2 separate regions of the Homo sapiens genome follow, and region 2 is linked to region 1. The links come from fine-mapping of genetic effects on gene expression. Tissue or cell type: esophagus mucosa. Region 1 holds a variant in brackets; the other region holds the start of a gene. All regions are shown on one strand. Distances are from middle to middle.

Region 1 (11,911 bases):
TGCATGTTTCTGTTCCCATCCATTCAACCAGTGGAAGTCTTCAGTGGGGGGAGGGGAGGGGACTGATTTCTAAAATGTCACTAGAGTGGCTTGAATTCCACAAAGCTGTTTGGGGGATTCATGAGGAAGCGTTAAATACACCAGCTGGGTGTCAGCAGCCCCCTGTGGCCTCAGGAATGTTTGTTAAGGGAGGGAAGGAATGAAGCCCCAGCCTCTCCTGTTCACTATTTCTTAGAGTCCGCTCCCTCCCCCAAAAAGAATGCCAGAAGCCTTAGCCCGAAGCTCCAAAGAAGACAGTAACTTGGGCCTGGCCTAGCCCCAAGGGCAGCTCCTTTGGGAACCCATTGATTTTCGGGTTGCCATTGGGCACCAGAGCTGTTGTGTGCGACAAGACTGCTGTGGTCTGGGACGCTTGGAGGTCCCCCCCACCTGACTCACCCACCCCAGGGCTTCAGACTCTGAGAACATTTCTCTGGATTGGAGACAGAGCTTTGAAATGTCCTTTCCAGTGTGAATGCCAAAGACGGAATCAGGGCATATTTTGGGGGGCGTGCAGCCAGGTGGCAAGTGTCTTATGTAAAGTGTTAGCTGAGTCCTTGATTGCAGAGGGCACAGGGCTGAGACTGGTGGTTGGTGATGGGCAGGAGTGGAGGCCCCGCGCCTCTGATGTACCTTACTTATTGGTTTGGAAAGGGGGCTCTGCATTATGGGCCATGCCAAGTCACCTCGTGACCCGAGGACCGGGGAGATCAGAGTGACCACCCTGGTCGGGATCAGTTCTTGTCTCATATGCCATTATATTGGCTCCCAAGAGCCAACCAAGCTCTTTGTGAAATATCAGTAAAGGTTTTGAAAAAGAGGGACCTGATGAATTCAGCAGTGGGTCAGGAGCGGGTGACTCTCAACTTTGTGGCTGCTGGTGGATTTTTGTGCCCAGATGCAGTGTGCGGTCAACATCTGCACGAGGGAGTGCTGCTGCTTCTCCAGGTGTCTGAGAACCAGTGGGTGAGGGCTTGGATCTCCCTTGCCTCTGCCATCTCTAAGTGATGTCCGAGTTGTAAAGCTTTACTCACTTTTTGATGCCAGCTACCATGTTTTCTTCAGCTATTAGGATAAGTGTCATTATAAAGATCCATCTGTATTTAAGAATTAATAGTAAGGTTAAAAACCAAGAGGTGAGCTTTCTTTCCTGTGCTGAAAGACCCTTTCAGTTGGTAGGCCCGCCTTGCCAACTGGCTTTCAAGTCTATCTTTATTACCTTTTCCCAGCCTGTGAATTAATGTGACCCTGCTGAATTCTCATCCTTGTTCTCCGGCGATGTTTTGGGCAAGAGTGTGGAGTCAGGCAGTGAGCCTCAAGTCCTATTCCAGGGTCTGGGAGCTGGAGGCTTTGAGGGTCAGCTCTGGGAGGATTCTTCCTCTCTTAGACATTAACTCAGCTTGACTCACGCCTATGAATCCAGAGCCTTCTGCGATTATGAGAAGCTGTAAACATAAGCTATGCATCTCACTTCTGTACCAGGATGCGTTCGGTCTTCATGGCTCAGTTATGAGTATTTCTTAACATGTCGTAACATTTATCTTTTGAAAAAAAAAAAGAAAAGAAAACTAGTTTGCCCAAGAGCTAAAGGTAGAATAGTATGATAATGAAAGGCTCAGAACAAGTAGCAGTTTTCACCTTGTCCTAATGAGCTGGGGGTTTCTTAATCTACCTTTGTAATTCATGGTCAAAAAAACTGGCTTGCCACTTGGGAAGGGCTGGTTTTTCTCTTTGGAAAGCATTTTGGAGTTGTTTGTCCCCTTGCCAGAGTTGTTTTGTATCAGCATGCAAATAAACCTGGATTTGTGGCCAAGTTCTTAAGGGCAGTGGAGAAAAGCTGGGGCTCTGTGGAACTTTTCTTCTTGCACACCGGGTGCAGCGGAAACATTCTACACGATAATGTTAGAATGTAAAAGCTGAATGGACTTTTTATTCAGGTCTTCTTTTACTTTCAAGCACTGTAGTCAGCAGTGGGGCAATTCATGAAGGATAAATTCTGCAGGTTTCTGCAAGCCCTCTTCCTACACATGCAAGCCGAAAACTTTAACCCACATGAAGGATTTTGAAAGAGTTCTGGGTTGCCTGTTGCTCTTTTAGGCCTTTAAAAAAATATCACCAGTGCCAGGCACGGTGGCTCACGCCTGTAATCCCAGCACTTTGGGAGGCCGAGGCGAGTGAATCACCTGAGGTCGGGAGTTCAGGACCAGCCTGACCAACATGGAGAAACCCTGTCTCTACTAAAAATACAAAAAAATTAGCCGGGTGTGGTGGTGCATGCCTGTAATTCCAGCTACTCGGGAGGCTCCCGGGAGGCAGAGGTTGTGGTGAGCTGGAGATCGTGCCATTGCCCTGGGCAACAGGAGCAAAACTCCATCTCGAGAATAGAATAGAATAGAATAGAATAGAATAGAATAGAATAGAATAGAATAGAATAGAATAGAATAGAATAGAATAGAATAGAATAGAATAGAATAGAATAGAATAGAATAGAATAGAATAGAATAGAATAGAATAGAATAGAATAGAATAGAATAGAATAGAATAGAATAGAATAGAATAGAATAGAATAATCACCAGTATCTGATACAGGGAGGGTGTATTCTGGAGGAATTGTTGTCCTTTACCTTGTGTGATGCAGTATTTGGGCTGTCCTGTAGTAGAGCCAGCCTGTTCCCATTATGGGTGTGAATGTTCCAGCTTCTCTTTGGGGGAACATGTCTTAGAAGGATAATACTATATCATTAAAAAGAAAAAATTGGACAAACCTCATTTGGTTGAACCTTAGAACTAGGATGTTCTGAATTGCAAAGCAAAGGTAACATTTTTTTCCCCAGATAAGGAGCCCCTGGGCTGTTTTTTTGTGTTGTTTTTTTTTTTGTTGTTGTTGTTGTTTTAAATCCCCAGCGTATTAAGTTGCAGGCAATGAGGGCTGCTTCTTTTGGATGGAAAGGGAAGAAAAACAGCATCTTGGCTTGGCTAGGAAGGGCTGGGATTATCTTTCTTTTGGCAAAAGGTGACTTTCAGATCAAAGGCAAATTGTTGAGGTCAACAAGAACCCAGGCAGGGTAGACTCTGTGTCCTTGAAAGGTAACACTTCTTACTCATAGAAGGGAAGGGGCAAGCATGATAGCGTATTTTTTTTTTTTTAAGACAGATTCTTGCTCTGTCTCCCACACTGGAGTGCAGTGGCATGATCTTGGCTCACTGCAACCTCCGCCTCTGGGGTTCAAGCAATCCTCCCACCTCAGCCTGGCGTTACAGGCGCACACCACCACGCCCTGCTAATTTTTGTATTTTTAGTAGAGACAGGGTTTCACCATGGTAGCCAGGCTGGTCTCTAACTCCTGACCTCAAGTGAACCACCCGCCTTGGCCTCCCAAAGTGCTGGGATTATAGGCATGAGCCATCGTGACACGCTAGGAGTGTCAGTGTATCTTTTATGAGGTTTTATTTTATCAAAGTGGCTCTTGCACAGTATGAATTATCAAGTAGTTCTTCAAGGGTGCTTATATGCTACTGGTCATTTGGCCTGACTACTGATCACTTCCCCCTCCCTAGAGACAACTATCAAAACGTCTTAGCTGATTTCTTTTGGTATTTCTGTCCATATCCCTAAATGATGGCTTATATTGTATATTGCTGCAACTTTTGTTTATTAGCTTGTTCTTCCCAATGTAGGATATTAGGATGTAGCCTTTTTTCCACTCTTTTTTTTTTTTTGAAAGTCTCGTCCTGCCACTCAGGCCAGAGTGCAATGGCATGATCTCGGCTCACTGCAACCTCCACCTCTGGGGTTCAAGCGATCCTCCCACCTCACCCTCCCGAGTAGCTGGGATTACAGGCTCGAGCCACCATGCCCAGCTAATTTTTATATTTTTAGTAGAGATGGGGTTTCGCCATGATGGCCAGGCTGGTCTCAAACTCTTGGCCTCAAGTGATCTGTCCACCTCAGCCTCCCAAAGTGCTGAGATTACAGGCATGAGCCACTGCGCCTGGCCCTTATTTCCACTCTTTTTCATTGCTCATCTACCCTCCCCCAACTACTCAGGCACAATTCTTGGCCCTTCATACCCCTAATGTGATTACATCATAATTTTTTGGTGTGGGGCCATCCTGTGAATTGTAGGATCTTGAGCAGCATACCTAGCCTCTTCCTTTCTTTTTTTTTTTTTAGACAGGGTCTTGCTCTCTTGCTCAAGCTGGAGTGCAGTGTCATGATCACAGCTCACTGCAGCCTCCATCTCCTGGACTCAAGTGATCCTTCCCCCTCAGCCTCCTGAGTAGCTGTGACTACAGGTGCATGCCACTATGCCCAGCTAATTTTTGTATTTTTTGTAGAGATGGGGTTTCACCGTATTGCTTGGGTTGATCCTGAACTCATGGCCTCAAGTGATCCTCCCACCTTGGCCTCCCAAAATGTTGAGATTACAGGCGTGAGCAACTAAGGCTGGCCTCTTCCCCGCTCTGAGGAGCATGGGGTTACCAATATTCAGTGTTTATTTTGGTTGCTATTGCTATCACTGCTGAGTCTGGGGGTACATACTGTGGAGTCCTGATAAGTTAGCATCAATGAAGAAGGGACCCCAGGGTGGGGGAGAACAATTGTTCTGAGAAACTGCTAACCACAAACAACTCTGCGTGTAGCTTCTCCAGCATGATCCTATAAAACTTCCCTCCAGCCCCTGCCTCTTTGCAACCCCTTCTCTGCTGTGTTGCCTGTTGCTCCCTTGCAACATACTTTTTCTCTAATAAATTAGTCTTCTCTTCTCTTCTCTTCTCTTCTTTTCTTTTTTCTGAGATGTAGTTTCGCTCTTGTTGCCCAGGCTGGAGTGCAATGGCGAGATCTCGGCTCACTGCAACCTCCGCCTCCCAGGCTCAAGTGATTCTTCTGCCTCAGCCTCCTGAGTAGCTGGGATTACAGGCGCCTGCCACTACGCCTGGTTAATTTTGTATTTTTAGTAGAGATGGGGTTTCTCCATGTTGGTCAGGCTGGTCTCAAAATCCCAACCTTGGGTGATCCGCCCACCTCAGCCTCCCAAAGTGCTGGGGATTACAGACATGAGCCACCGCGCCCAGCCATAAACTAGTTTTTCTTTAACTGACTACTGTCTCAGTAAATTCTTTTACTGCCCGTGACTCTGGCCCCAGCCAGTGTACCCACAACACAAGTTTCTGCAGTCACTAGGGTTCAGGATAGTTTTCTTTGCTTAATTTTCAGTGCACTTATCCTTGATTCATCCCTCAAACCCTCCCCAGTGATGAAATATCTCTTAATATATTCAGACACACCGGGGGTCATCTTTTGAGATCTTCTCTGTCTGAAAACAGCATGATTTTTATCTTGACAGTAAATTGTTTGGGCGTAGTCCTGAATGGAGACAGTTCTCCCACAGCACTCTGAAGGTGGTGTCCACTCTGCTGTTGTGCAGTATTGCTGGAGGGAGATCAGACGTTTTTGTTTCTTGATCTTTTGTACTAGGTCTACTTTTTCCCTCTCATTTTTCTTTTTCTTTCTTTCTTTCTTTCTTTTTTTTTTGAAGAGACAGGGTCTTGCTGTGTTGCTCTGGCTGGAGAGCCGTGGCTATTCACAGGCACGGTTATAGCCACACTACAGCCTTGAACTCCTGTGCTTAACTGATCCTCCCATCTCAGCCTCCCAAGTAGTTGGGTTTACAGGTGTGTACCACTATGCCCAGCTCTCTTATTTTGCATTTCTTTGTATTTTTGTTCTTCCTGGAAGATTTTGTTCAACATCATCTTCTAATCTTTCCATTAAGTTTTAAATGTATGTCCTCATTTTTCCCTCAGATTCTAAACTTTTAAAATTTGTTTCTCAAATGTTCCTTTTTCATACCATACTGATCTTGTTTCATGATTCTTCCATATCTGTGACAGTATTAAACTGGTCTCTAAAAATGTCCTCTTTTTGCATAGATTGTTTCTGAGCTCTGCTTTTGTTGTTTGTTTTGGCTGCTTTCTTCCCTGTTAGAGGTTGTCTTCAAATGTCTAGTGCTCCTTGGCCGTCTGCTGGTATTGAAGGTTGCGTTCCCCAAAATGCTGTTTGGACACTCCGTGCATGGGGGTGAGTGATCAGGTGAAGCTGTTTCCCTGGGTATTCCTCTAAGGCTGTATCTTTCTCTTTTTTTTTTTCTGGAGGGGCAGGGAGGCGGCCATGTTTTTGTCAGATACTTTTTTTCTACTTAATAAACTTCTGGTGTAGTACAGGTTGAAAAGTAATGGGAA[G/A]TCTGCCAGTTGAGGGGATCTCTCCTTTGCTCAGCTGGGCGAGGGTGATCATCTCTGCCCCCCAACTTTGGCTGTAGTGGTTCCAGTTTGGAGGGAAGGTTACCACTAGGCAGAGGAGGCAGTGCTTGCTTGCTTGCATCCGGAGCTGGATCTTGCTCTCAGTTCCTAACCGTTTCTAATCAGTAATCCTCTGTCTGTCCAACTAGAATCATTCCTATTTTATTGTGGTATCATGGGGATTAAATGAGGCAACACATAAAGCTATCTCTAGTAAATTCAAATTCCCCCTCACTTCTCTTCCTCACTTTCCCTACTCAATCCTGATTCATTAAGAATTTGGAACTTTGGGAGGCCGAGGTGGGAGGATTGCTTGAGCCCAGGAAGTCAAGACAAGCATGGGCAACAAAATGAGACCCCATCTCTACAACAAATAGAAAAATTAGCCAGGCAAGGTGGTATGTACCTCCAGTCCCAGCTACTTGGGAGGCTGAGGTGGGAGGATCGCTTTGAGCCAAGGAGGTTGAGGGTGCAGTGAGCCAAGATCACACCACTGCACTCCAGCCTGGGCGACAGAGTGAGACTCTGTCTCAAAAACAAAAAATAAATAAAAAATAAAAATAAAATAAAAAATACATCTAATGCCCAGCATCAGTACATTTCCTATGTTATTTGTAGCCCACCAGAAGTGATTCTTTCCTCTCCTCTACCAAAAAACTTTTTTCCAGAATAATAGTGTTTCTTATTTTTATAATATTAATAAAGGGAGTAGCTCTTTCAGATCAATGTGGTATTCAGAGTAGGGTTTTTATTTGTTTTTTTGTTTGTTTTGATATGGGGTCTCGTTCTGTCATTCAGGCTGGAGTGCGGTGGTGTGATCACGGTTCACTGCAACCTCAGTCACCTGGGCTCAAGCAGTCTTCCCACCTCAGCCCCCCAAGTATTAGGACTACAGGCACATGCCACCTCATCTGGCTAATTTTTTGTATTTTCTGTAGAGGTAGGGTTTCGCCATATTGCCCAGGGTGGTCTCGAACTCTTGGGCTCAAGTGATCTACCCACCATGGCTACCGAAAGTGCTGAGATTACTGATGTGAGCCACTGTTCCTGGGCCAGAGTAGGGTGTTAAAAAAGTAGTTTTGGGAAGTGGCAATAGTGGGAAAGATGAAGATTCAGTATCCCTGTGACAAGACTCTATTTCTTCACTCTTTCAATCTTTGGAGTAGAAAATCTGTTAGGGTTTAGAGTGGGACCCACAAGTGTGGCAGAAATGCTGCCTGCCCGAGTCCTTGTTGCCTCCTCCTCTCAGACACTGTTGGGCCACATTTCCCAGCCTCCCTAGCAGTTAGCTGTGGCCTCCTGACGCTTCTACCCTGGGGAGTGCAGCTGCAGCCATGCCTGCCATTTTACTTTTCCCCTTCTGGCTGCCTGGAATGAAGATGGCCGCAGGGCAGAGTTCATCAGCGTGGATCCCTGAATGACTGCAGAGGTGGCTGCCCATGCTATGGTCACCATCCATGGTGAGCAAGAAGTAAGCCTCTGCTGTGTTTGGGCCATTCATTGTATGTTTTTTGGATTACTTGCTGTAACAGACTATTCTCACAAATGAAATGCTGGGAGAAATCAGAAGTTTTCCTTCTAGCAAATATACCCAGCTTTAAGAGGCGGAATATACGGTGCTTCTTTTACACCCATGCTGGAAGGAGTGAGGAAAGCATCACTGTGGGTGTCCAATTAGCATGAAGCCTATTCCCTGCACACTTATTATATAAAATGAGACCTCCACGCCCATTGGCGTCTTTCCACCTCCTTACCCTTTTCTCTCAGCTGGTAATTTATTCACCCCCACCCCCCACTTGCTCTTCCTTCTCCTCCCCGGGGATGATTTCCTGGGAGCCCTGGAGCATTGGGGCAGGAGGCCGGGAGAATGCCCAGTCTAGATAATTAGTCCTAGGTGGGGCTGGCCGGAGGCACAGTGGGTGGGGTGGGTGGCCAGCTGCTGTTAGGATGATTTCAGGGATTGGACCTTCCTCCTGGTGGTGGTGTCCTTTCTTTAACTGCCTTGGTTAAAATGCAAATGTTGCCTGGGAGGGCTACACATTGTCATCATTAACAGAACTGCCTTCATCAGATTAATTAATTATAGTTCTGTATGGCAGACTTTTTTCCCCCTGGTAGTAGCACCCAGACACATGAATTAGACCAGCAAAGAGAGGAGAGATAAAGTTGAAAGCCAGATGAAAGCCAAGTAAAACTGGCCTCGGGAGGAAGGTGGAGCTGGCGGAGTGGGAGTGCTGAGGAAAGACCTTGTCTGTTCAGGTACTGGCCGCCTACAAAGAGGAGTTAGGACAGCCTGTGGAGGAAGCTGGTAGGGAGAGCAGGGGCCCAAGTCCAGCTGAAAACCCTCCCTGGACTTGCAAAAGAGGTGAAAGAGATTCTTTACCTATGGCTTGCAGATTCTGAAGCTGACGAAATTCCACATCTATTGGTGTTAATTGTGCATCTGTTTGCAAATTTGTAAACATGGTGATATTTATCTCTGCTAATTGTATAATGCTTTGTACAGTGTCTTTTTTCTTGTTGCACAATTAAAATGAAAAAAATTGAAAATAAAGGAAAAGATTGATCCATAGCCCAAAACATGTAATAATCTTATTTCTGAAAGTACAGCTGTATTGATTTTTCCCCATCTCTGTGGAATTCTTTGCTTTGAACCTCGTAGATCTAATTTTTAATTGCTTGAAAACCCTTAAGAATTACATTGTCAACAATCTTTGGAATCAGATGAAAGGAGTTTAATTGTGTGTATGCCACTTGACGTTTTAAGAAATGGTATGTTTTGTTGTGGAATATATTTTTATAATTTAGGTTTTTCTAGACAGGCATATTTTTAAAAACCCTAATTTCTGGAAAACGGAGTGTACTTTATATTGGTCAAATATGTCAGTCTTTCAAACAACTATGCTTTTTTGTATGTGCAGCTTTTCTTAACATTTTCATTATGTTTAGATGCCCTGAATCTTGAATTAAAGTTTGGAAAGAAAACATCTGGACTTGAAAAGATAGGCCTGCTGCTGCTTCAATCATATTTATTTTGTGTTGATTTAACGACAGAGCTCTCACATGCTGATGCCATTAGGGTTTGGGACGGAGCCATTTCCACTCCCCCTCCTCATTTTTAGTGGCTGGTGTTTTGGGGACAAGTAATTAAAACTTGTACCACTATTCATGGTTGTGAAATCTCAACACAAAGGTAAAATTCCTGAGGATGCACCTCCTTGTACCCTGAGGCAGGAACTTGTTTGCCTTTACGGAGAGTTTAATTCTTTTTTTTTTTTTTTTTTTTTTTTTTTTGAGATGGAGTCTGGCTCTGTCACTCAGGCTGGAGTGCTGTGGCATGATCTTGGCTCACTGCAACCTTTGCCTCCCCGGTTCAAGCAATTTTCGTGTCTTAACCTCCTGAGTAGCTGGGATTACAGGTGCGCCACCGCGCCCGGCTAATTTTTGTATTTTTAGTGGAGATGGGGTTTCGCCATGTTGGCCAGGCTGGTCTCGAACTCCTGACCTCAGGTGATCTGCCTGCCTCAGCCTCCCAAAGTGCTGGGATTACAGGTGTGAGCCACCACGCCTGGCCTGAGAGTTTAATTTTTAATTCTTAAATTACCCATTAATTAATTACCATTAATTAAGAATTTTTAATTTTTAAATTACCCATGTTGTAATTGCTTCACTGAAAAAAATGTTCAATTCCTATGAAAACTCTTTATTTCCCCTTCTTTCTATTTTTACAGTGGCTTACACTGGTTCTTTTCCTTTGCCATCTACTAGAAGGTTGGATTTCTTGAAGGTCCTTTTATCTGTCCTCTCTCTCTCATCTAGGTGGTCTCATGTGCTTCCTCGAGATAACGTGCATCTGTTTGCAAATTTGTAAACATGGTGATATATGGTGCCTATAGACAATGCTCATATCTATATGTGCAGCCTCAACTTCTCTTCTTTTTTTAATTTTCAATGACCATTTTACCAAATCAACTTTTCGTCTGAACTCTGAGATGGCCCTTGTGTGTTGCTGAGGCCCTTTAAACTCAGCACAATCCAAATGGGAATCATTCATCTTCCTTTACCTTCTCTAATTCTGAATTTCTAATCTTGATCATCAGTTTATCCCCAAATCTAGAAGTCGTCCCTGATGCCTTCCTCCCCTTAACCTCCCACAGCCAGTTGATCACCAATCCTTTGGAGCCTAAATACGGGGTGTGCATTGCTTTCTTCTCATGCCCAGCGTCACTGCCTCCAGTGGTTTGCTCCAGTGACTGCCTGGGCAATCACAGTAGTCTGTAACATGCATACTGCTGCTCACCTCTTCACATGACAGACTCTTGAGACCTCCAGTAGTCGGTGTGCCAAAACAGTGGTCTACTTCTCATGCTCTTGCTGGAAAAGCCTCAGTAATTCCTCATGGGACACCTTAGCTAGGTATAGAAGGCTTATTTATTTTATGTATTATTATTATTATTATTATTATTTGAGATGGAGTCATGCTCTGTCACCCAGGCTGGGGTGCAGTGGCGTGATCTTGGCTCACTGCAACCTCCGCTTCCCAGGTTCAAGTGATTCTCTTGCCTCAGCCTCCCAAGTAGCTGGGATTACAGGCACCTGGCACCATGCCTGGCAAATTTTTGTATTTTTAGTAGAGATGGGGTTTCACCATGTTGGCCAGGCTGGTCTTGAACTCCTGACCTCAAGTGATCCACCCGCCTCAGCCTCCCAAAGTGCTGAGATTACAGGCATGAGCCACCATGTCTGTCCACTTTATTTTTATTTTATAGAGATGGGGTTCTCATCTCTGTCACCCACTGGAGTGGGTGGTATGCAGTGGTGTAATGATAAATCACTGTAACCTCAATCTCCTGAGCGCAAGTGATTCTACCCCCAACCCTTGCCTCAGCCTCCGAGATAGCTGGGACTACAGGCATGCGGCACCATGCTCAGTTAATTATTTTTATTTTTTGTAGATACAGAGTCTCACTGTGTTGCCCAGGCTGGTCTTGAACTCTGGCCTCAAGCAATCCTCCCACCTTAGAAGGCTTTTTATGTTTTATCGATCCTGCCTATTTTCCACCCTCGTTTGCCAGTAACTCTTCATGTAACACTGTATTAGTCTGTTCTCACGCTGCCAGACATACCCGAGACTGGGTAATTTATAAAGGAAAGAGGTTTAATGGACTCACAGTTCCATGTGGCTGGGGAGGCCTCACCATCATGGCAGAAGAACAAGGAAGAGCAGAAGGATGTCTTACATGGCAGCAGGCAAGAGAGAATGAGAGCCATGTGAAAAGGAAAACTCCTTATAAAACCATCAGATCTCATGAGACTTATTCACTACCATGAGAACAGTATGGGGGAAACTGCCCCCATGATTCAATTATCTCCCACCAGGTCCCTCCCATAACATATGGGAATTATGGGAGCTATAATTGAAGATGAGATTTGGGTGGGGACACAACCAAACTGTATCCAACACTTTAGCTGAGTATGAAAAGTTCTTCATGCTTTAGCATCTGTCTTTTCCCTGGCCTCATCTTCTGCTGTTACCCACCTTGATCCTTCAGTCCTGCATTGTCTAATATGG
Region 2 (11,911 bases), 27 kb before region 1:
CTGAGGTGGGTGGATCACCTGAGGTCAGGAGTTTAAGACCAGCCTAGCCAACATGGGGAAACCACATCTCTACTAAAAATACAAAAATTAGCCAGGCACGGTGGTGGGCACCTATAATCCCAGCTGCTCAGGAGGCTGAGGCACAAGAATCGCTTGAACCTGGGAGGTGGAGGTTGCAGTGAGCCAAGACTGTACCACTGCACTCCAGCCTGGGCGACAGAGTGAGACTCCATCTGAGAAAAAAAAAAGTATGCTAGGTAATATAAAGGGGAGAACTGTAAACAACACCAAGCTACATACTATGTAGTAGTGCTCACTGGTAAACATGCCATACACCACTAAACACACACTGTGCAATACACTACTAAAATCACACCATATAATATGCAACACACACCATGCGATACACCACTAAACAAATGCTACGTAATATACTACTAAACACATACCATGTAATATACCACTAAACACACACTATGTAATACACTACTAAACGACAACTGTGAACACTAAAAAGCTCAAGACATCTTCTCATTATCAAGCCACTGCCAACAAAAACAATGCCTTTCTTCTGTACGGTGCCTTAGAATTTTCAGCATTTATCACTCCTTTGAGCTTAATAAAAGCCCTATCCCATGGGCATTGAAATTTCTTATTTTTCAGTAAGGGGTCCCGATCACCCAGCCTTTTCCTGACTTCTGCTTATTTGCTCGCAACCTCATCCACTTCCCTTCTAAAGGCTAAAGGATATGCAAGTATTATTCACTAACCCTCAAAAGATGTTTGGGTACACCTTACTTTTTTAGAGACAGGGTCTTGGCTGTCACCCAGGCTGGATCGTAGCTCACTCTAGCCTGGAATTCCTGGGCTCAAATGGTCCTCCTGCCTCAGCCTGGTGAGTAGCTGGGACCACATGTGCATCCCACCATGACGGGCCTTTTTTTTGTTGTTTTTTTTTTCTTGGGGGTAGAGCCTGGGTCTCGTTACGTTGCCCAGGCTAGTCTTGAACTCCTGGGTTCAAGCAATCCGTCCACCACAGCCTCCTGAGTAGTTAGGATTACAGGCGTGAGCCACCGCACCTTTAGGAGGCCGAAGTAGGAGGATCGCTTGAGCCTAGAAGTTTGACCAGCCTGGGCAAGATGGTGAGACTCCAGCTCTGAAAAAATAATGCAAAAATTAGCCAGTGTGGTGATGCATGCCTGTAGTTCCAGCTGCTCAGGAGGCTGAGGTAGGAGGATCCCTTGAGCCTAGAAGTTCGAGGCTGCAGTGAGCTATGATCATGCCAGCACACTCCAACCTGGGCAACAGAGTGAGACCCTGTCTCAAAAATAAAGTGATAATGATATTGGGGTTGCAAATGTTTAGAATTATTATGTTTTAGGGCTCTCTCTGAGATCTGAATGGGCAGGATGATGGAGCCTGAGATTGGCTTCACATTAATCCAGTGAGGAGGGTGAAGAGGGGAGCAGATGAGCCGGGTACCCGTACCTCACGAATCCCACGTACAGGGATTCACTGTAAGTGTTTCTATTATAGACTGCATTTACGCATGGTGGAAATGTTCCAAAAAGCTAAACAGAATGGCCAAATCTAGCTGAGAGGTCTGTATAAAGTGTCACATAATAGTTTAAAGCAGATGTTGGCAAACTCATTCTTAATATTTTTGGCTTTGGGAGCCATACTTTCTCAGTCCAATATTCACCCTGCCCTTGTAGGGTAAAGGCAGCCATGAATAATTCACAAATGCACATGAACAACATAGCTGCGTTCCCATCAAACTTTATTTGTAGACATTAACATTTAAATTTCAGTAATAGTCACATGCCAGGAAATATTTTTTAATTTTGATTTTTAAAAACATTTTAGGGCTGGGTGAGGTGGCTCACGCCTGTAATCCTAACACTTTACGATGCCAAGGGTGGTGATCTTTTAATTAAGCCCAGGAGTTGGAGACCAGCCTGGGCAACATAGTGAGACCCCACATATATTTACCCTAGCATGGTGGCGTGTGGCTGTAGTCCCAGCTACTCGGGTAGCTGAGGTGGGAGGATCGCTTGAACCCAGGAGGTCGAGGCTGCAGTGAGCTGTGATTGTGACACTGCACTCAACCTGGGCAAGAGGGTGAGACCCTGTCTCAAAAAACAAAATCATTAATTTTTTAAAAAGTAGGATGTAAAACCATTCTTAGCTCGTGGACCCTAGAAAACGGGCAGGATTTGGTCTGAGGGCTGCAGTTTGCGCACCTGTGGTGTAAAAACCATACCCAAAAAGCCTGGATAGGGAAGGGATTTCAGCTTACAAAATACTCGAGAGAATATATAGTGCACAATAGAAAAGAATTTACACACGCGCACACACACACACACACACACACACACACACACACACACAGAGCGAGACAGAGAGAAGTTAATTGTTAGTCTCTCCCTGGTGCAGTTGGGCAAAAATGAGGAAATCTTTTCTGGTCTGGGTTTTGCTTAACTGCGCCATCTGAAGTTTCCATATAACAAACACAATAAACGGATTTTTTAAAACCCAACGTCCCTTGGATGGGAATTTTACCGACCATGTGTTTGCAAAACTACCTAGTCGGCCGGGCGCGGTGGCTTACGCCTGTAATCCCAGCACTTTGGGAGGCCGAGGCGGGTGGATTACCTGAGGTCAGGAGTTCGAGAGCAGCCTGGCCAACATGGTGAAACTCCGTCTCTACTAAAAATACAAAAATTAGTCGGGCATGGTGGCGCGCGCCTCCCCCAGCTACTCGGGAGGCTGAGGCAAGAGAATCCCTTGAACCCGGGAGGTGGAGGTTGCAGTGAGCCGAGATTGCGCCACTGCACTTCAGTCTGGGCGACAGAGCAAGACTCCGTCTCAAAAAAAAAAAAAAAAATTACCTAGTTGTCCCATCCGGTCCCTAGGGAACAGCCTCCGCTTTCTCTTTTCTCTGTGGTTCAAGTGTTAAGACGGCCAGCCCAACCCGCTAGCCGTGCGCCATCACCCGGGCACCGATCAAGTTCCAACCCGAGTGGATCGAGTTCCAACCTGCGGGCCATGCGCCCTCACCCGGGCATCGATCCGGTCTCAACCTGCGGGCCACGCACTCTCACCCGGGGATTGAGCAGGTCCCAACCCCAGGGCCTCACGCCCTCACCCCAGCACTGAGCAGGTCCCAACCCGCGGGCCTCAAGCCCTCAGCCGGGGACCGAGCAGGTCCCAACCAGCCAGCTACGCGCCCTCAGCCCTGCACCGGGCAGGTTCCAACCCGCGGGCCTCTCGTCCTCACTCCATCACGGAACAGGTCCAAATCCACAGGCCGTGCGCCCTTATCCGGGCACCAGTCGGGTCTCAACCTGCGGGCCACGCGCCCTCACCCAGGCGCTGATCAGATTCCAACCCGCGGGCCGCGCGCGCCCTTACCCAGGCAGCCGAGAAGGTCGCAGGCAGCGGCAGCGCGCAGGATGCGGACCGAGGCCGGCGGGGACGTCGCGGGGGACCCGGGGCCCGCGGGCCGGCGGCCGGGCAGCAGCTGCAGAAGGCCCAGCGCCAAGCGGAGCCCGCCGCTGCCCAGGCAGAGCGCGTGGAAGGCCCGCGGCTGGAAGCTCAGCACGAGCTGCGTGGCTGCGTCCCGCGTGGGGCAGCAGAAGGTCCCTAGGCGCGGGGAGGCCATGGGCTGTGTTCGCGGACGCGGCTCGGGTGTGCCAGGACCCCGCCGGCCTGCCTGGGTCATGTGCTGGGCGGGCTGGGGGCGGCATCATGTGCCCTGGGCCTCTCCCCCACCCCAACCCCCAGCGCCTGCAGTAGAGCCAGGCTCGGTGGGGGCCGAGAGCACTGGGCTAACGCCACGAGGCCTCACGAGGTGATGCTTGGGCGGGCGGAGGAGGAGGACAGAGAGAGGGAGGGCTGAGAGGAGAGGAAGAGGGAGGAGGAGGAGGGAAGTGGAAGGAGAAGCAGAAAGGTTGGGAAGGTTACCTTTCTCCCCATTCACCAAGCCTTCCTGGTGGTTTCTCTGCCACCTAGAGCGCCAAACCTGCCATCTTTACTGGTCTTCTAGAGAAACAGGCCTCGTGGACTAGATCTTTCCTATTTGGGACTCTGACATCCTGATTTTGATGCCTTTAAGGCGCCAGAACATGTTCATAAACTGTGACTGATCCCTGTAACTGCTTTTTTCCTAAGTAGAGATGGTTGTCCAATTAGTGCTTTTTTTTATGGCCTCTCTCATTCATGGATATAATCCCACAGAGGCAGGATTTTCGTTTACAATTAATGAATGAAACAAACAGATCAATGTTAAAGAAAGAGCAGTAGCTCACACCTGTAATCCCAGCACCTTGGGAGGCCGAGGCAGGCAGATCGCTTGAGCTCAAGAGTTGGAGACCAGCGTGGGCAACATGGCGAAACCCCACCTCTATTAAAAATACAAACATTAGCCCGGTGTGGTGGCCCAGGCCTGTGATCCAAGCTACTCGGCAGGCTGAGGTGGGAGGATCGCTTGAGCCCAGGAGGTGGAGTTTGCAGTGAGCCAAGATAGTGCCACTGCACTCCAGCCTGAGCGATAGAGCCAGACCTTGTATCAAAAAACGAAACAAAACAAAAATTAGCTGGATGTGGTGGGGCGTGCTTGTAGCCCTAGCTTCTGGGGAGGCTGAGGTGGGAGGATCACTTGAGCCCGGCAAGTGGAGGTTGCAGTGAGCAGAGATTACACCACTGCACTCCAGCCTGAGCAATGGAGTGAGACCCTATCTCTCTCTCTCACACACACACACACACACACACACACACACACACACACACACAGAATTAAGTTTAAAATTTAAAAACATTAAAAAAATAAAGGGAAAAGTACTCAGCATAAGTACACACAGACACATTTTGCACCTTAACTTTCAGTTCTATTTATTTGGATTTTTCTTAACTGCGTTAATTTTTCTATGTTTTCTCATACATTGAAAATCTTGCTTTATTCTATACATGTAAGTTTCCAAGTAATATTGTGTTAATGATTACAGTAAGCATACTAAGATTTTTTTTTTTAAGTTCTTCAAGGCTGAAAATAGAAGTGCTCCTTCTAGATTATGGCCTTTATTTTAAAAAAAGAAAAGAAAAAAAAATCCAGCTCCATCATATTTATCATCTTCAACAAACCTCATTGGCTCTTTGTGACCACACAAGAGACACCCTTCCTCCTCTCTCCTGGTAAAATGGGCCCCTCTCTGGGTTTTTTTCAAGCAACCAAGGTGCAGGTGTCCCCATTGTGTTCATGGACTTTCCTCACTTGTTCTCCCCACCAGCTTTGCGGTTTTAAGGAAGGCATGATCTGTGCCGTCTTCCTCTAGGGATAGCAGGACTGGCCTTCCCTTGGGACCCCACAGAAGGCAGGCGGGAGGCTCCACTGCCAGACAGGAAGCGGAGCCTTATTTAACAACAATGAGGTGCAAACTCCACCACTTCAAAAGAGTCCAGATCTGGCACGTCTATAAACGCAGCCTGTTCACTCCACAGCTGCCTTCCTAGAAGTCAGAACAGACTGACATCTTCAGAAAGCTTAACAGCTCTGCTGGATTACACACTCCATTGTAAAAACAGTCAGAAGCACCATAGAACTACTCCCCAAGCATTAATGTTTAAAAGCTTGAATTCTAATATCTAATTTGGACAGTGGCTCTCTTTCCTTCTGCCTTGGTAAGCAGAGTTGCTTCTGGAGGTTAGTGTAATGGAAAGTGCTTTAAAAGATAAAAATGAAGAGTGTCTGTACATTTGCCTGAAGGTTGAGGGCCAGTGGGCCAGGCAAAGGGGTCCCTGCATTTGAGTCACTGTTTCATGCCCCAGAAAACACACTCCGCCTCTCTGCTTCCTACGTGATAACCTGGGAGTACTCTCCAGGGGGCTCTGGCTGACTCTGGTGCCCACTACTCAAGCTCAGTAGTCAGAATCTCATCAGTGAGAAAATGGATATGAATGCAGATTCCTAGGGCCATGGCACAGATGACAATGGTAAAGATGAGCCTCAGAGTAAAGGTGCAGAAGCATGAGTGTAAGACTAAATTTAAAACCCTGTCATCAAAGTGAGAGGGAACTAGAAATTGGTATGAGAGGCTGGGCCCAGTGGCTCACACCTGTAATCTCAGCACTTAAGGAGGCTGAGGCAGGAGGATTACTTGAGCCCAAGAGTTTGAGACCATCCTGGGCAACATAGTGAGAGCCCATCTCTAGCGTCTTCCTCTAGGAGCAGCATCTTTTGAAGTGGTGGAGTTTGCAGCTCATTGTTGTTAAATAAGGCTCTGCTTCCTGTCTGGCAGTGGAGCCTCCTGCCTGCCTTCTGTGGGGTCCCAAGGGAAGGCCAGTCCTGCTGTCCCTAGAGGAAGACGACACATCTCAAATTAGCAGAGCGTGCTGCTGCGCACCTGTAGTTGCAGCTACTGGGGAGGATGAGGTGGGAGGATCACTTGAGCCCAGGAGTTTGAGGTTGCAGTGAGCTGTGATTGCACCACCAAACTCCAGCTTGGGTGAACTGAGATGACAAACTTTTTTTTTTTTTTTCCTTTGAGACAGAGTCTTGCTCCATTGCCCAGGCTGGAGTGCAGTGGCGTGATCTCAGCTCACTGCAATCTCTGCCTCCTGGGTTCAAGTGATTCTCATGCCTCAGCCTCCTGAGCAGCTGGGACCACAGGCACATGCCATCACACTCAGCTAATTTTTTGTCTTTTTAGTAGAGATAGGTTTCGTCATGTTGGCCAGGCTGGTCTTGAACTCCTGGCCTCAAGTGATCCACCCGCTTTGGCCTCTCAAAGTGCTGGGATTACAGGCATGAGCCATCATGCCTGGCCTGACAAAACTTTTCATGAAACAGTACAACTACAAATCTGAGAAAAGTGAAGCAAATACACACGCACACACTTGGGAGGCAGAAACATCTGGAAGTTTCGTAGATATGGGAGATACAGGGATGGCGGTGCTGAATATGAACTTTGAGGTATGTGTGCAGAAACAATCGGTCTTTGAGTACATGAAGGTACATCTGTTTTTGCATGAACCCTTCCTCCGTTTTTCCCTCCTTCCCAGTTTAGCACCTGAATTCGCTCTCCATTTTCACAGTTTGGGCTGCCTGGGGCATCTGTTCCCTGGAAATGCTCCATCATCTTGGCTTTCTCTCATTCCACAATCCACCATTTACCCACCATTCCCACTTGATCAGATGCACTTGATCAACTGCTGGAAGACGGTTCCTGAGTTTCTCTCCCAGGCAGTTTATTTTTCATGGTGAGTCCCCTGACATCGAGATGTCTCAACCAAAAGAATGGGGTTTATGGTGAGACTCAGATATCCCTTAGAATCCAGTAGAGGAGGTGGCTAGGGGCAGATGGATGGCAGAAACAGCCTAAGTAAGGAGACTGCCATTCACAATAATTTGAATTTAAATAATAAATAAGATTTGTTTATTTATTTATTGACATGGAGTCTCACTATATCATCCAGGCTGGAGTGCAGTGGTGCGATCTCAGCTCACTGCAACCTCTGCCTCCCGGGTTCAAGTGATTCTCCTGCCTCAGGCTCCCAAGTAGCTGGGATTACAGGCGCCTGCCACCACACCTGGCTATTTTTTGTATTTAGAGTACAGACGGCGTTTTGCCAAGTTGTCCAGGCTGGTCTCGAACTCCTGACCTCAGGTGATCCGCCCGCCTCAGCCTCCCAAAGTGCGGGGATTGCAGGCGTGAGTCACTGCGCCCAGCCTAATAAATAAGATTTAAATAATAAAATAATTTATGGAGTGTAGGCAGGCACTATGCTTTGAATATTACATTCATTATCTCATTTAATATTCAGAATGAGCCTTCCAAGTGGGTTTTACTGATACTTAAATTGATATAGACAAAACATGGCCAGGTGCAGTGGCTTATGTCTGTAATCCCAGTACTTTGGGAGGCCAAGGTGGGAGCATTGTTTGAGCCCAGGAGTTCAAGACCAGCCTGGGGCAACATAGGGAGACCCTGTCCCCCACCTCCCCCAGTCAAAAAAAAAAAAAAAAAAAAAAAAAAAAAAGCCGGGCTCAGTGGCTCACACCTGTAATCCTAGCACTTTGGGAGGCTGAGGCGGGCAGATCACCTGAGGTCAGGAGTTCACTACACTCCAGCCTGGGCGACAGAGCAAGAACAGGAGAAAGAAAGAAAGAAAAAGAGAGAGAGAGAGAGAGAGAGAGAGAGAGAGAGGAAGACCAGCCAATACATAAGTCCATGGGTATGGCTGTGTGCCAATAAAACTTTATTTACAAAACAGGCAAAGGGCCATAGGCTGCAGTTCCTGTAAGTCTACCACCTGAGGCTCTGGCTTATCTAGCAGCTGCTTGAAAGGCTGGGCAACAACCGAGAAATGGAGGAGGATTAACACTTAGTGGGGCAGACAAACTTATTCCAATGAGAGAGGAAGCAGGAAGTCACTGGCAGATGTATTGCTCACCCTTCCTTCCTAGGGAGGTTTCTGAGGAGTGGTTTCATATGTTCCTGTGTAACCAGCTGGGTTTCTTGGGAATCTTGTGGCCAGTTCATGAATGGCACTGCTCTTAATTTGCTTTCTTCCTTCCTTGCCTCACCCTGCTTTTGTGCTCACTCCTAGAGTCCTTATAGACACACAATGTGCCTTAAACTCTGTGCTCAGATAGCTGCTCTTCCTGAGAAAGGATTTCAGCTGCTCCAGCCACAGCCCTCTTTTGGGTCCACCAGATGACCAACAGCATCTTTGCCTTTCATTTAAGTGCAATTCAACAGGAGTTTATGAGTAACATACGCAAGTTGATTGAGCAATGGTATAGATTCTGTGTCCAATAAATAAGGTAGTGTCACCAGACCTTAATGAAGAACACAGGCCAGGTGCGGTGGCTCATGCCTGTGATCCCAGCACTTTGGGAGGCCAAGGTGGGCAGATTGCCTGAGGTCAGGAGTTCAGGACCAGCTTGGCCAACATGAAGAAACCCCTTCTCTACTGAAAATACAAAAACTAGCCAGGCATGGTGGTGCAGTCCTCCCGCCTCAGCCTCCTGAGTAGCTGGGACCACAGGCATACACCATCATGTCTGGCTAATTAAAAAAAAAATGTTGTAGAAATGAGGTCTTGCTATGTTGCCCAGGCTGGTCTCGAATTCCTGGTCTCAAGCCATCCTTTCACCTTGGCCTCCCAGAGTGCCGAAATTACAGGCCTGAGTCACCTCACCCAGACCAAATTGTACATTTTTTTAAATAGGGAGACATGTGAAGTGGCATCAGGCCTGAGAATGGTACTAGTTCAACTTTACTGTGCATTCGCGTGCAGATCTTGTGGAAAGGCAAATCCTGATTCAGGGTTTCTGGGGGTGGGGCCCAAGACTCTGCATTTCTTACATTCTCCAAGGAGACATGGCTGCTGCTGACCTATGGCTCCTACTTTGAGTGCCAAGACCCTAGAGCTTGTATCTTATCCTGAAAAGCAAAGAAAACTCCCAGGCCATATTTGAATTTATGGAGGACTTGGTTCAAAATAGATGCAGTAAAATTGATTAGCATCCAACTAAGCCATGGAGCATTCTCTCTCTTTTTTTTTTTTTTTTGGATGGAGTCTTGCTCTGTTGCCCAGGCTGTGGCAATAGAGTGGTGTGATCTTGGCTCACTGCAACCTCCGCCTCCCAGGTTGAAGCGATTCTCCTGCCTCAGCTCTTGAGTAGCTGGGATTACAGATGCGTGCCACCACCCCTGGCTAACTTTGGTATTTTTAGTAGAGGTAGGGTTTCACCATGTTAGCCAGGCTGGTCTTGAACTCCTGATCTCAGGTGATCCACCCACCTTGGCCTCCCAAAGTGCTGGGATTACAGGCATGAGCCACCGCGCCCGGCTGGAGCATTCTCAACACAGTGGATGAGTCAAGGAGGGAATCATTAGTCGGAGAATGGTGAGCAATGTCCTTCCTCTTGGATTCTGATGTGTTTGGGACTAACCTGGGACAGAAGTCAGGACGCAGGGAGGAAAAGAAAGGGAAGAGGAAGACAACAGATAAGGACTGAGAGAGGCAAATACGCGATTTGTGTTGAAAAATAGGATGTCCTGACAATTTTCTCCTATTGAAACTTAAGGGAGCATTTCCATCCTGGTCTGTTAAAATAGGAAGCCAGTATTGTGATAAACTCCCAGGAGAAGCTCTTGCCCAAGTGAGTAGCACATTGCCCTCCCATGGACCTATCCATGGCTAACCTCCTAACTCATCACACTCCATTTTAAATGCTTTCTCCGTAAAAGTCAACTAGTCAGTTGTTAACTGTGAGAACAAGGTGAAAATGGAAAGTAAAACAGGGTTTGCTTCACAGTGATTCAATTTTCAATTCACAATTAAATTTGGCAGAACACGTCTATTTCAAAAAGAACAACTGACCTGGGCGCAGTGGCTTATGCCTTTGGGAGGCTGAGGTGGGAGGATTGCTTGAGCTCAGGAGTCCAAGACCAGCCTTGGACAACATATAGTGAGACCTCATCTCTACTAAAATTCAAAAAAATTAGCCAGGTGTGGTGGCATGCACCTGTGGTCCCAGCTGCTGTTGGGGGCTGAGGCGGGAGGATTGCTTGAGCCTCCAGGGTTGAGGCTGCAGTGAGCCGTGATAGTGTCACTGCACTCCAGCCTGGGTAACAGAGCAAGATCCTGTCTCAAAAAAAAAAAAAAAAAAAAAAAGACATTGATAACAGTCTGATGGAGTAAATATGCCAAAAGTAACAATTTTCATATAGCTCAGAGTTGAAACTGGCATTTGTGATGGAATAAACAGCAAGTAGAAAGAAAAGGAAACAAGACAGATATGAAAAGCTGATTGTGGTATGAGTGGTTGATGCTATTAAATGTTTAATGACTACCACAACAGAGCCACAAATAAATGGACGAGTACAGACTATTAAAGACAGTTCAATGTTTATTTAAATTAACATCAAGTACGGTGTTTTACATGTAAATTCACATCGCGTGCTTTTTCTGATGTGCAAGAAAGCATGCATAATTCTACACGCCTTCATGGTGAGAATCGTTCTCACATTTGCCTGCCTAAAGACATCTGTCTGCCTAAAGACATTTGTCTACATTTCTTTATAAGAATGTCAGAGTTTCAGTTCAGTTCACCTTATCCTATTTGGTGATATTTGGACTTTTCAGCTCAAAAGGAGAAAAAGTTTTTAAGGAAAATTTCCAACATCCACAAAAGGAATGTAATGATTTTGAGACCTGATGCTTAGCTATGTACTTGAGTTCAGTTGACAAACGCTCAAGGCCCATTAAAAGCAAACACTTTTACATAAATCTGCTCTCTTTGGAGTGGCTTTGAAAGTACACACACACACACACACACACACACACACATAAACACACACGCACACACATATACTTTTTCGTCATATCTACAAACAAAATTGACTCTTCATTGAATTTTAGAAAAATTGCCCTGGAGTGGTGCTTCACACCTATAATCTCAGCACTTTGGGAGGCCGAGGCGGGTGGGTCACTTGAGCTCCGGAGTTCAAGACCAGCCTGGGCAACATGGCAAAACCCTGTCTCTACCAAAAATACAGAAGCATGGTGGTGCACGCCTGTGGTCCCAACTACCTGGGAGGCTAAGGTGGGAGGATCTCTGTAGCCAGGGAAGTTGAAGCTGCAGTGAGCCGAGGTCGCACCACTTCACTCCAGCCTGGGGCGACAGACTGAGACCCAGTCTCATAATAATAATAAAGAATTTTAGAAAAATTACATACACTTCATTGACAGCCAAATTGAACTTAGAAAAAAAGTTTTATTTGTGCTTTTAAGATCATGAATGATGAAAATGATTTGTTCAATCAAAAGTCAGCAAACCCAGCCAGATGCAATGGTTCACACCTCTAATCTCAGTGACTTGGGAGGCTGAGGTGGGATGATC

Which allele goes with the higher level. Positions count from the first base shown, and alleles are read on the strand shown. Sizes are in standard deviations (SD) of each study's normalised expression.
In carriers of allele A in region 1, the expression in esophagus mucosa of the gene that starts at base 3,694 in region 2 tends to be higher than with G alone (small effect, 0.18 SD a copy in GTEx).

What was found.
Region 2: it holds the start of GPR143, and the variant in region 1 is fine-mapped to the expression of GPR143 in esophagus mucosa (GTEx, PIP above 0.99).

Annotation. Positions count from the first base shown.
Region 1 is chrX:9,789,553-9,801,463 of GRCh38, forward strand. The region is part of intron 1 of SHROOM2 (shroom family member 2); the gene reads left to right. Among named protein-coding and RNA genes, the nearest start is that of SHROOM2, 9.1 kb to the left of the region's middle. RefSeq lists an enhancer at 3,476-3,999. The variant G/A (reference allele first, on the strand shown) is at 6,283.
Region 2 is chrX:9,762,154-9,774,064 of GRCh38, forward strand. GPR143 (G protein-coupled receptor 143) reads right to left here and starts at 3,694. Exons shown (of 9, transcript NM_000273.3): 1 at 3,415-3,694. The coding sequence starts at 3,664. RefSeq lists an enhancer at 2,600-3,101.